Regions from separate parts of the Homo sapiens genome. Here region 2 is linked to region 1. The links come from fine-mapping of genetic effects on gene expression. A gene starts in region 1. The other region holds a variant in brackets. All regions are shown on one strand. Distances are from middle to middle. Region 1 holds the start of TEP1 (telomerase associated protein 1). Region 2 has its middle 17 kb from the start of RNASE10.

Evidence for each region.
Region 2: its variant is fine-mapped to the expression of TEP1 in whole blood (TOPMed, PIP 0.97).

What each region holds. Positions count from the first base shown.
Region 1 is chr14:20,411,050-20,416,428 of GRCh38, reverse strand. TEP1 (telomerase associated protein 1) reads left to right here and starts at 2,928. Exons shown (of 55, transcript NM_007110.5): 1 at 2,928-3,024. It also overlaps the pseudogene RNA5SP382. RefSeq lists enhancers at 2,725-2,774, 3,275-3,344, 3,895-4,064, 3,174-4,090.
Region 2 is chr14:20,486,018-20,491,396 of GRCh38, reverse strand. No RefSeq gene overlaps it. Among named protein-coding and RNA genes, the nearest start is that of RNASE10, 17 kb to the left of the region's middle. The variant A/G (reference allele first, on the strand shown) is at 3,112.

The sequences.
Region 1 (5,379 bases):
CAGTGTACAAGCCTTGCTGGCCTTGAATCTCTTTGCTGCTTCAGGAAACCAGAAAGTAAAACTAGATCCTCAAAGCCAATCAGGAAGCCATCACCAATTGCCTTCCCTCCTGTATTGCCAGTCTTCTCAGGTCTGATATTTATGGGAATATGATGGAAGGGCTTGCATATGCTGTTCTTTCACTGGTGGGGCAGGTGTTTCCCACAGAGAGTCACAGACTACGAGGTCTTGAGGTTGGGATTATTATCTAAGGCATATTCTATGGGGAAGAGGCCTTATAAAGCTGGCCTTCAGAAGAAAGGCCCTGTGTGGACTCCTTCAATCCCTCCCCTCACTTCCTTCTCCTCAATATGCTCCCACTGTAGTCACCTCACGTAACCCTTTCTTTCAGGTTTCCTAGCTCTTGTGTTCCCTCACCAAACTCCTCTCTTTCTCCTCTAAACAGACCACTAATGAAGGTTTTCGATGTGAGTGGTACTGCCCTCTAGGGGGTGTTTTTGGCTTTCACAATAATTAGGATGATTTTACACATTTAAATGGGTAGGGCCCAGGATAGCTCAACATTCAGGAACTGTTTAGGACACTACCACACAATGAGTGACATTTCCGCATCTTTAACTTTGAATAACTTGCCAGTCATTCATGTAGCTGAAAACTTGTTTTAATTAGGATCTAACTTAATTTTTTTATTTTTTTTTTGAGTCGGAGTTTTGCTCTTGTCACCCAGGCTGGAGTGCAGTGGTGTGGTCTCGGCTCCCTGCAACCTCCACCTCCTGGGTTCAAGCCATTCTCCTGCCTCAGTCTCCCAAGTAGCTGGGATTACAGGCGGCCACCACCATGCCCGGCTAATTTTTGTATTTTTGGTGGAGACAAGGTTTCACCATGTTGGCCAGGCTGGTCTCAAACTCCTGACCTCAGGTAATCTGCCCACCTTGGCCTCCCAAAGTGCTGGGATTACAGGCGTGAGCCACCGTGCCTGACCATAATTTAATTTTAAATATAAACACAAGGCATTTTATGCGTAGTTTTAATACACACTGAACTTTCCAGGGATGCAACTACCATGAAAATCATGGGATGATCATACCTTGTTTTGTTTGAAAATCTGCCAAAAGCTATTTAGTATTCTGGAAAATCATACCACATCAGTAATTCTGTTCATGGTATTTGAATCGCCATTATAATGCCTGTATCATTCTGCATTTGTAGCTGTTACATTCCAGGTGATTTTATATACAGATGCATATATCTGAGTACCACATTGTGTCTTCTTGAATGTTATACACAAACATTTACATATCTAAACATATAGTATTTAATTATAAGTCATATTCTTTCTAGTATTCCTTTTATCTCCCATCCAAGTACTAACCAAGCCCAACCCTGCTCAGCTTCCAAGATCAGAGGAGATCGGGCGCGTTCGGGGTGGTATGGCCGTAGACTCCTTTATATCTCTTTAAGAGATTTTACTAATTTTTTGGCCAGGCATGGTGGCTTATGCCTGTAATCCAAGCACTTTGGGAGGCCAAGGTAGGAGGACTATTTGAGCCCTGGAGGTAGAGAGCCTGGGCAACATAGCAAAACCCTGTCTCTACTTTTTGTCTTTAAATTTTGGTTTAAAATTGTGCGTGGGGGTAAGTTACATTCTTTACGAATTATGTTTCAGAAAAATAAAAAGAGCTTTAAAATATTTGTTATAAAAAGGAAATGTTTTAGTTCAGGTTGCTATAACAAATTACCGTAGACCGGGTGGCTTAAACAACAAATATTATTTCTCACAGTTCTAGAGAATGGAAGTCCAAGATCAGATTGCCAGCATGGTCTGCCTCTGAAGATGAGGGTCTTCCTTGGGATTGCAGATGGCTGTTTTCTTGTATCCTCATATCGTGGAAAAAGAGCTAGCTAGCTCTTCCGTCTCTCCTTATGAGGCCACCAATCCCATTTATGAGTATTCTAAACTCCATGACCTAATGACCTCCCAGAGATCCCACCCTAAATACCATCGCATTGGGATTAGGGTTTCAATATATAAATTTTGGGGAGACACAAACATAAAGACCATTGCAGGGAGTGTTGGGACTGGTGGCAATAGAGGTTTCTAAGGAAGGAAAGGGGTACTGGCTCAGTTAATAGAGGACAGAATGCCCTCAATTCTGAGCGGAAGCTCAGCTGTTACCTGAGACTCAAGGGTACCTCTCTAAGGAAAGCAATGATATTTTCCAGAAGACAGCTAATCTGCTTTATATAAAGGCAGAAAGCATATTTCTCCTGCTACTATGTTTGGTCCTCTCTTTATGAAGCTAGGATTATTAACCTAAGGGTCACTTGTCTCTTTCCTAAGCCTGGTTCCATCTTCCTGGAAAGGGTTCAGCATTAATCATTCAGGATGGCTCCAGATAGATTCTGTGTGATCCACGGATCTCTCTTCTGATCAACAGGAGGGGAGGCACTTGCTCTCAGTTCAGCGAACTTTGATTGACTGATGTCTACACTTGGTTACAGGCGGTTGCTTTCCGCTTTCCGTCTCCTTTTAAGGAGTTCCTCAAAGGAACTTTAGGATGAATTGAGTCTGACCGTCTTTGATATTAGGAAGGAGAGGTGTACAGCTAGGCAGCGAGCATGCTAAAATCTTTTCCAGGAAACGGTGTTTGAAGAGTTAATGGGAGAAAAAAAGACGAAAATTAGCCAGAGGAGACGAATTTGGTAGAGGGGGAAGCCCTAGGGACAGGAGAAAATAGGACCAGAAAGGGAAAAAAAATAGAAACAATAACAAACTAAACTCGGGCCCCAGAAAAGGCGGCAGGGGTCCTGGGCATTCGCGTCGCAGCCCTGGCATGTCGTCTTGCCCGGCCCTCGGCTCGCTGCCCTTCCAGCAGCTGCTGCGCCCCGCCCGGGCCCGAGAGTCTCCGCCCGCACCGTCTCTTCTCAGATCCGCATCCGGCTCCTCCCCCGGCTGCCACCCTTCCCACCGGCAGAATCCAGAGCGAAGTTTCTGCTTCCTGCTGCGGGAATCGGACGCCCCAGGTCAGGCACCCAGGGTTTCCAGCCCCAGTCTAAGGTAGGGTCCGAGCGCAGGCAGAACTTGCCCTGGCCCTGGGTCTAGGGCGCTGGGCTCTGAGGCTGAGAGCTGGGTGGGAAGTGCCTGGCGGGGCCGGTTAGGAACCACCCGAGACTCAGCTAGGGGTGCATCCACCCTGCTCCTCCCGGCGGCTCCGGGAAGGGGAGGGAGTGTATACTGCGTGAAAGGGGAGGTGAGAAAGGAGGAGGAGAAGGCTGAAGGAGAGGGAGGGACAGGAAGAGAGACCACGTAAGAATCATCCCCTCTTACTTCCTTGCCCTGTGTGCCCATCGAAAGGGGACAGTGGCTGTCACCAACAAATGGTAGTATGAGAACCGTTTGTGATAATAGAAACCCAGACTGTGCTTAAATGTGCTAGACTACCATACAGCCACTTGAAGAGTGAGGTGGAGGCCGGGCGCGGTGGTTCACGCCTGTAATCCCAGCACTTTGGGAGGCGGAGGTTGGGGATCACCTGAGGTCAGGAGTTTGAGACCAGCCTGACCAACATGGTGAAAACCCTCTCTACTGAAAATACAAAAAAATTAGCCGGGCATGGTGGTGGGCGCCTGTAATCCCAGTTACTCGGAAGGCTAAGGCAGGAGAATCGCTTGAACTCGGCAGGCAGAGATTGCAGTGAGCTGAACAACAGAGCCAGACTCCGCCTCAAAAAAAAAAAAAAAAAAAAAAGGAAAGAGTGAGGTGGGTATTAATGTGTTAACAGGGCAAGGTCTCTGAGATATACTAAGTGCAGAATAGCATCTAACTTATGATCCTGTTTGTGTAAAGCAAAAGCAAAAGCAGTGGTGATGGTGAAGGCATGTATTTGCATATGCATAGAAACTGTGAAACTGTTAGTATAAAACTGTGAGCAATGTTTACTTCCAGAGAAGGGAACTAGAGATGGAAGTGGGGACGGAACTTTAACTTTCCATTTGTGGTTCAGCCGAATCTCCTTTCAAAAACTCCAGGGTGCAAAACAATAAAATGAGCAAAATAGTGAGACTGTCCTTTTAAGGATAGGACAGTCTCACTATGTTGCTCAAATAAACTGTCCTTATTTTTCTGTTTATTTTTGGCTTGAGATCTCTTTTAAAAAAAATCTGAGTCAATTCTGAGTTTCCCCACTCCTTTCCTTGGGGGCTTATATAGGGCAACGACATGAGCAAAGTGTATTGGGCACAGAAGCCATCATTTTTTACGTGTTTGTCACACTGACGTCCAGTGAGATATTGTTGTCCTTTTTGGCCCTGGATTGTTAGTCATTCAGGTCTTCTTGGAAGTGTTCTGTACTTTTGTCCCTAAGCTTTTTCACACTAAGTTTAGGTGGTTGACTTAACAATATTATTCCCAAAATATTTACATATGAATGAGAGATTAGCCTTTGTCCAAATAAGTAAGAAAATACATTCCTTTTTTTTTTTAAATAGAGGTCTCACTATGTTGCCCAGGCTGGTCTTGAACTCCTGACCTCAAGTGATTCTCCCACCTCAGCCTCCCAAAATGCTAGGATTACAGGTGTGAGCCACCACACCCAGCCAGAAAATAGGTTCCTGATGGTATAATTCAAGCATTCTGTTAGGCAGAGGTTTCTAATTTTCAGTTTATGGAGATCCTGGGAGGTCCATAAATGGGCTTCATAGACACTCTGAAAATTGAGCACAAAACAGTATATACTTTTTTTTTTTCTGTGAAAAAGCTCCATAGCTTTTACCAGATTCTCAAAAGCCTCTGAATCCCGCTGACCAGCAATTGTGGGAACAAGGCTAAAAGGGTCTCTCTCCTCAGGAACTTAATGGTCTATTGGGAAGAAAGACAAACAGGTGATGTGCTCTATGATAGGGGACATATGGGTGTTGTGAAAACAAGGAGAAGGCCACCTAAATCAGACTGGGGCTTGGTGTCAGCACAGGCTTTTTGGAGGAGTTGATGAAACTGAAGTCTGTAGAGTGAGAGGAAAGTAGCATTTGGCCTTGTAAAGGAGGGGTGGTATTGGTAGAAGAAAGAGTGTTCCAGGGATCTGCCTGTGCACAGGCCCGTAGTCAAGAGATACCTTGGCAATTAATAAGCTAAATAAAATTTGTATGATTGAAGCTTAGAGTGCTGAGGGTTAGATCGGGGTGTTAGTGAGAGATGATGCTGGGAGGTGACCGGAAGTCGGGTTTTGTGTATGATGCTGAAGATGCAGAGGGGAGCAAGACAAAGGAGCCCTTACCTTAAGGAGTTGTATTTCAGTAAAGAGAAACAATTAGGCTGGGTGCGGTGGCTCACGCCTGTAATCCTAGCACTTTGGGAGGCTGAGGTGGGTGGATCATGAGGTC
Region 2 (5,379 bases), 75 kb before region 1:
TCTCGGCTCACTGCAACCTCTGCCTCTTGGGTTCAAGCCATTCTTCCATTCTTCTGCCTCAACCTCCTTAGTAGCTGGGACTACAGGCATGTGCCACCATGCCCTGCTAATTTTTTTGTATTTTAGTGGAGACAGGGTTTCGCCATGTCAGCCAGGATGGTCTCGATCTCCTGACCTCATGATCCCCCCGCCTTGGCCGCCCAAAGCGCTGGGATTACAGACGTGAGCCACCATGCCTGGCCAGCACTATTTTGAGTTCACAGACTAAGTTCACTTGGGATGGCAGATACTGGCTGATATGGTTTGGTCGTGGTAGTGAATAAGTCTCACGAGATCTGATGGTTTTATCAGGGGTTTCCACTTTTGCATCTTCCTCATTCCCTCTTGCCTCCTCCAAGTAAGAAGTGCCTTTCACCCTCTGCCATGATTGTGAGACCTCCCCAGCCATGTGGAACTGTAAGTCAAATTAAACCACCTTTTCTTCCCAGTCTCTGATATGTCTTTATCAGCAACATGAAAACGGACTAATACACTGGCACAGAAGTTAGCACAGAAGAGTTGTCCGTTAAGGTTTGGTGAAAGAGACAGGAAAGGAGAGGAAAGGGAAGGAAGGAAATAGGGAAGAAGGGAGGGAGGGAGCCCTGAGCAATGCGTGGAGGTCAGCAGTTAAGATTAGCTCAGCAGGAAGGAAGCGTCCTGGGCTTCCGTGAGAGGTGACCTCTGACAGGCTTCCAGGTTCCTGTGCTCTTTGAGAGAGTCTTTCTTATCCCCTCACCCAGTATACAGGTACTTTGGCCTGGCCTGGCTGGCCAGATATGCAGTCGAGGTTTTACCTTCAAAGATGACAGCTAGAGAAATAAGAAAAGGGAAAGCATTCAGAATCCATTATAAGACGTACTGATAAGTAACACACATGCAGATCTTATGAATTAATGTGGATCTTCATAGGTAAGATCTTCATAATGGCAATGCTATTATGTAAGAGAATGTCCTTATTCTTAGAGATGCGTGCCAATATATTCAAAAATGGACTGATAGGCAAATTGTCTGCAGCAATTTACTTTCAAATGGCTCAGGAGAAAACAAATGTATGTAGCAGATTATTGACTATTGATGGTTTAGGTGAGAGGTACACTAGTGTTCATTACATGATCCTTTCTACTTTTCCGTAAACTTAACGATATTCCAAGTAAAAAGTTCAGGACAAATGGGCATTAGAAATTTTCTCTAAAATGTATAAAATCCATAGTAAGCACACCTAGCTGGTAACAGCGCTTGCTTATCTTGGCTGAGAGGATAAGGGGTTCTTCCTTGCTTTTTGGTGTGTGTGTGTGTGTGTGTGTGTATGTGTGTGTTTAAGGCCACAGCTAGGACCCTTCTTTCTGCCCCTCTGGCCTCTTTCACTGCACCAAACCACCTGCTCCTGGGCCCCAGCAAAGCAATCCCCCTATGAACAACATTTCTCAACAAGTGTTTCTGTGCCTGTTAGTAGCCCCACACGCTTCTTCCCCACAAACCCTTTCCTCATACACCATTGCCCACACAAAACACACCCCTTTCAAACTGCTGTTCTGGAACAAATGGCTTTCTTCTCTACTGAGTGCACCTCTGCCCAAGGCTTCCACCCACAAACGATTCTTTCTCTAAAGTTCCTGTGTAACCCTACCCCACCCATCCTCTCTGAATCATTGCCTCAATCCCCTGAGGTCTATCTTGCTGCAAATTGAATTCCTGCTGGTGTTGAGCCTGAAAATTTCTCAGTTTGCTAAGCTAAAGAGTTGCCCTTCCGTGATGGATGAAGCAGTGAATTGCTTCCACTTTTGTCTAGGATCGGGCACAGACCTTACTCTTTCTGCCCTAGCACCCCAGCTCCTCAGGTCCCACTTCAGTGGCATCAAGCAGAAGTGGACATGCATGGATAGATATATAATTATTGAAACATGAAAGCACAGTGTAACATCCCACCCTCCTTCTGTAGAACTAGAGTGTTGTGGAACTATAGTTGTTGCTATTCAGGTTTTTGCAGATAAAATATCTTGAAAAGAATTTTAGAGGTCATAAGGTCAACTATTTCTCTCTACAGCTTTGTCAAATATTCCTCTAGCCCCTATTTCAACATTTCAGGAATGTAACGTAACAATGTCTTTTTTGTAGAGCTCTTTTTCTAATATTGAGTGGGCTCTCCTGTCCTAGTCAACTCTCCAAAGTTGCACAGAGTAAATTTGATTCTTCTATATAAATAAGTTTAAAAATAATATAAGGCCAGGTACGTTGGCTCATGCCTGTAATCCCAATACTTTAGGAGGCCGAGGTGCTAGGATCACTTGAGGCCAGGAATTCGAGACCAGCCTGGGCAACATAGCAAGACTTTGTTTCTACAAAAAAAATTTTTTTTAATCAGCTGGGTGTGGTGATATGTGCCTGTAGTCCCAGCTACTCAGGAGTTTGAGGCAAGAGGATTGCTTGAGCCTTGGAGTTCAAGGATGCAGAGAGCTATGATCATACTAGTGCATTCCACAGAGCCTGGGTAACAGATCAAGATTCTATCTCTTAAAAAAATCATAATAATAATATTAATAGAAGACAGTTCTTCACTACCTCCTTTCATCTTCTGTTTACCACCAAACTTAACTACTCTCTGGCTTTTCATTCAACCTAAACGTGATGCCTTTTTACACATTCTCCATCCCCATCTCTTTATGTAGATCTAATGCTATGGTGACAAAAGTTCTGAGCCTGAAGGAATAGCTTAGCTATTCCTTTGCTGTGTGGTATTGGAAAAGTCAGATAACCTTTCTCTAAGCCTTTTTAAATCAGAAAAATGAAAATGAGAAAAATATCAATGATACTTGCTCAAGGGTCTCAGTAATTATCACAACTAAAAAGGACCAAAAAATGTAAAATATTTTGTAAACTATAAAGCACTATGTACATATTACCTGCTGTGAATATTCACATTAAAGGTCCAATCTCAGCATGAGTGTCTCCCTTCCTCCCAGCATAAATTAAGTCCTTCTATACTAGGTTTTTTTGGTAAAATTTAGCCACACACATTGGAATTCAGCATCAATGGCTTTTATGGAATGATAGTAAATTGCAGTGATTACTTTG[A/G]AAAAATAGTCTGTTCATAATGACAATGGTCCAGACTAATTTGTTTTATTGTTATTGTTTTGTCTTGTTTTTTAGAGAGGGATAGGGTCTCGCTTTATCACCCAAGCTGGAGAGCAGTGGCATGATCATTGCTCACTGTAACCTGGAGTTCCTGGGCTCAAGTGATCCTCCTGCCTCAGACTCCCAAGTAGCTGAGACTACAGGTGTGTGCCATCACAATCAGCTTGTAAATTTTTTTTTTTTTTTTTTTTTTTTTTTAGAAACAGGGTCTTGCTATGTTGCTCAGGTCGGTCTCAAACTCCTGGCCTCAAGTGATCCTCCCACCTCAGCCTCCCAAAGTGCTGGGATTACAGGCGTGAGCCACTGTGCCCGGCCCCCACCTGGCCTAGTTTGTTGTTTGTTTGTTTTTAATGCTTCGATATAACAGCTACATCTTCCTTCTGTACTAGCCATTCTTTTACACTCAATCAGCTTTACAGTTGCTCCCTCCCCTGCAGGGCTCATAGTCTGCCATGTTACCAGTTGTATTCCCAAGTCTGGAGCCTTTGGGGTCTCTAAGCAAGAATCTAGCACTGAGGCTCTGGGGAGGAAGGGCTGAACTTTCTTTAATATCTTTAAAGAGTTTGCTAAAAAGTCTTTACCCTGCAGGGATCACCTTGCAGAGTTTTTCTTTGTTGTTGTTATTATTGTTGTTGTTGTTTTTAATTTCCTAGCTCTGCTCTGCTGCCCTCTTATGGGCAGCTATCAAGTCAAAACCAAGCTTCTATCTTAGACCAATTTGCTTCCACTGGCAAGGCTCCCTATCACACAACACAGGTGTAACTGTACTATAAGCAAGCCATAGGGTATTATATCAATAATCAATAAAGGTGCCATTTAACTCTCAGACTATGGTACAGGCCATCTTCTCTTCTTCAGATCACACCCAAGTCCCAGTTGGCTTCTTTCCAGTTCAAAATGCCTCCCATCATTTAAAAAAAAAGGAAAAAACCTTCTCCTGAACCCACATCCTTTCCCCCAGCTACCACTTCCCTTTATAGCAAAATTTCATGGTTTGCACTTGCTGCCTCTATTTCCTCACCTCTCATTCTTTCTGGTGTCCGCTCTAATAAAGATATCATCTTTGTTACCCCGCTGAGACTGCTCGTCAAGGTGAGCAGTGACCTCGATCAGTCTCTTGTGTTAAAACGCTTTCTTCACTTGCCCTCCAAGGCATCCTACTTCTTGGTTTTCCTTCTACCTCATTAATGTCTCCTCAAACACATTTGCTAGATCCTTCTCCTTCTCCTGACTTCTGTCCCCAAGTGATATCGTCCAGATAATTTGGTTTAAACACCACCTATGTGCTAATGACTTCCAAATGTATTTATCTAGCTTAAACCTCTTCCCTTGGACTCCAAACTCATATACCCAACTGTGTAATCCACATGTCCATCTGGAGGTCTAGCTTTTCAAACGTGACAGCCTTAAAAGAAACTTTTGATTACCATGCCAAAACTGCTCCTCTGTTAGCGGTGTCTTGGTAGATGGCAACTCCATTCACCCAGCAGGTCAAGCTGAAAACTTAGGAACCTTTCTAAATTCCTATTTTTTACTCATATTTTATTTTCTATATATCTATAGAAATAAGGTAAGTCTTATTCTATATATATAGATATATAGAAATATATATTTTTTATATATAGATATATAGAAATATATATATAGATATATAGAAATATATATTTTTTTCTATATGTAGATATATAGAAATATATATATTTCTATATATATATCTCTCTCTATATATATATATTTCCTTATATCTATGTAAATATAGGTAAGTCCTATCTGCTCTACCTTCAAATATCTCCAGAATCCAACCTCTTCTTACTGAAGCAGCATCATTCATCTAAGGTAATACCTGAGGTTTGCTGCCTCATGCCAAGGAAATCAAGGATGTGGACACACAAGAAGTAAGGTTAAAAGCGGAGGTTTAATAGGCGAAAGAAAGAGAAGAGCTCTCTGTGCAGAGAGGGGTCCTGGGGAAAATGGATTGCCACTTCCACAGTGAAATGCAGGAAGTTTTATAGATAAGCTTGAGGAGGCGGTGTCTGATTTACACAGGGCTCGAAAGATTGGTTGGACCAGGTATGCCATTTGCATAGCACTCAAAGAAGCTGGCTGCCCCACCCTAATCTTTTATTATGCGGATGGGTTTTTTACTTGGCCATTGCCATATTGCCTGGTTCTTTACTGTGCACGTGGTGACTAAGAAAAGGGAAGATG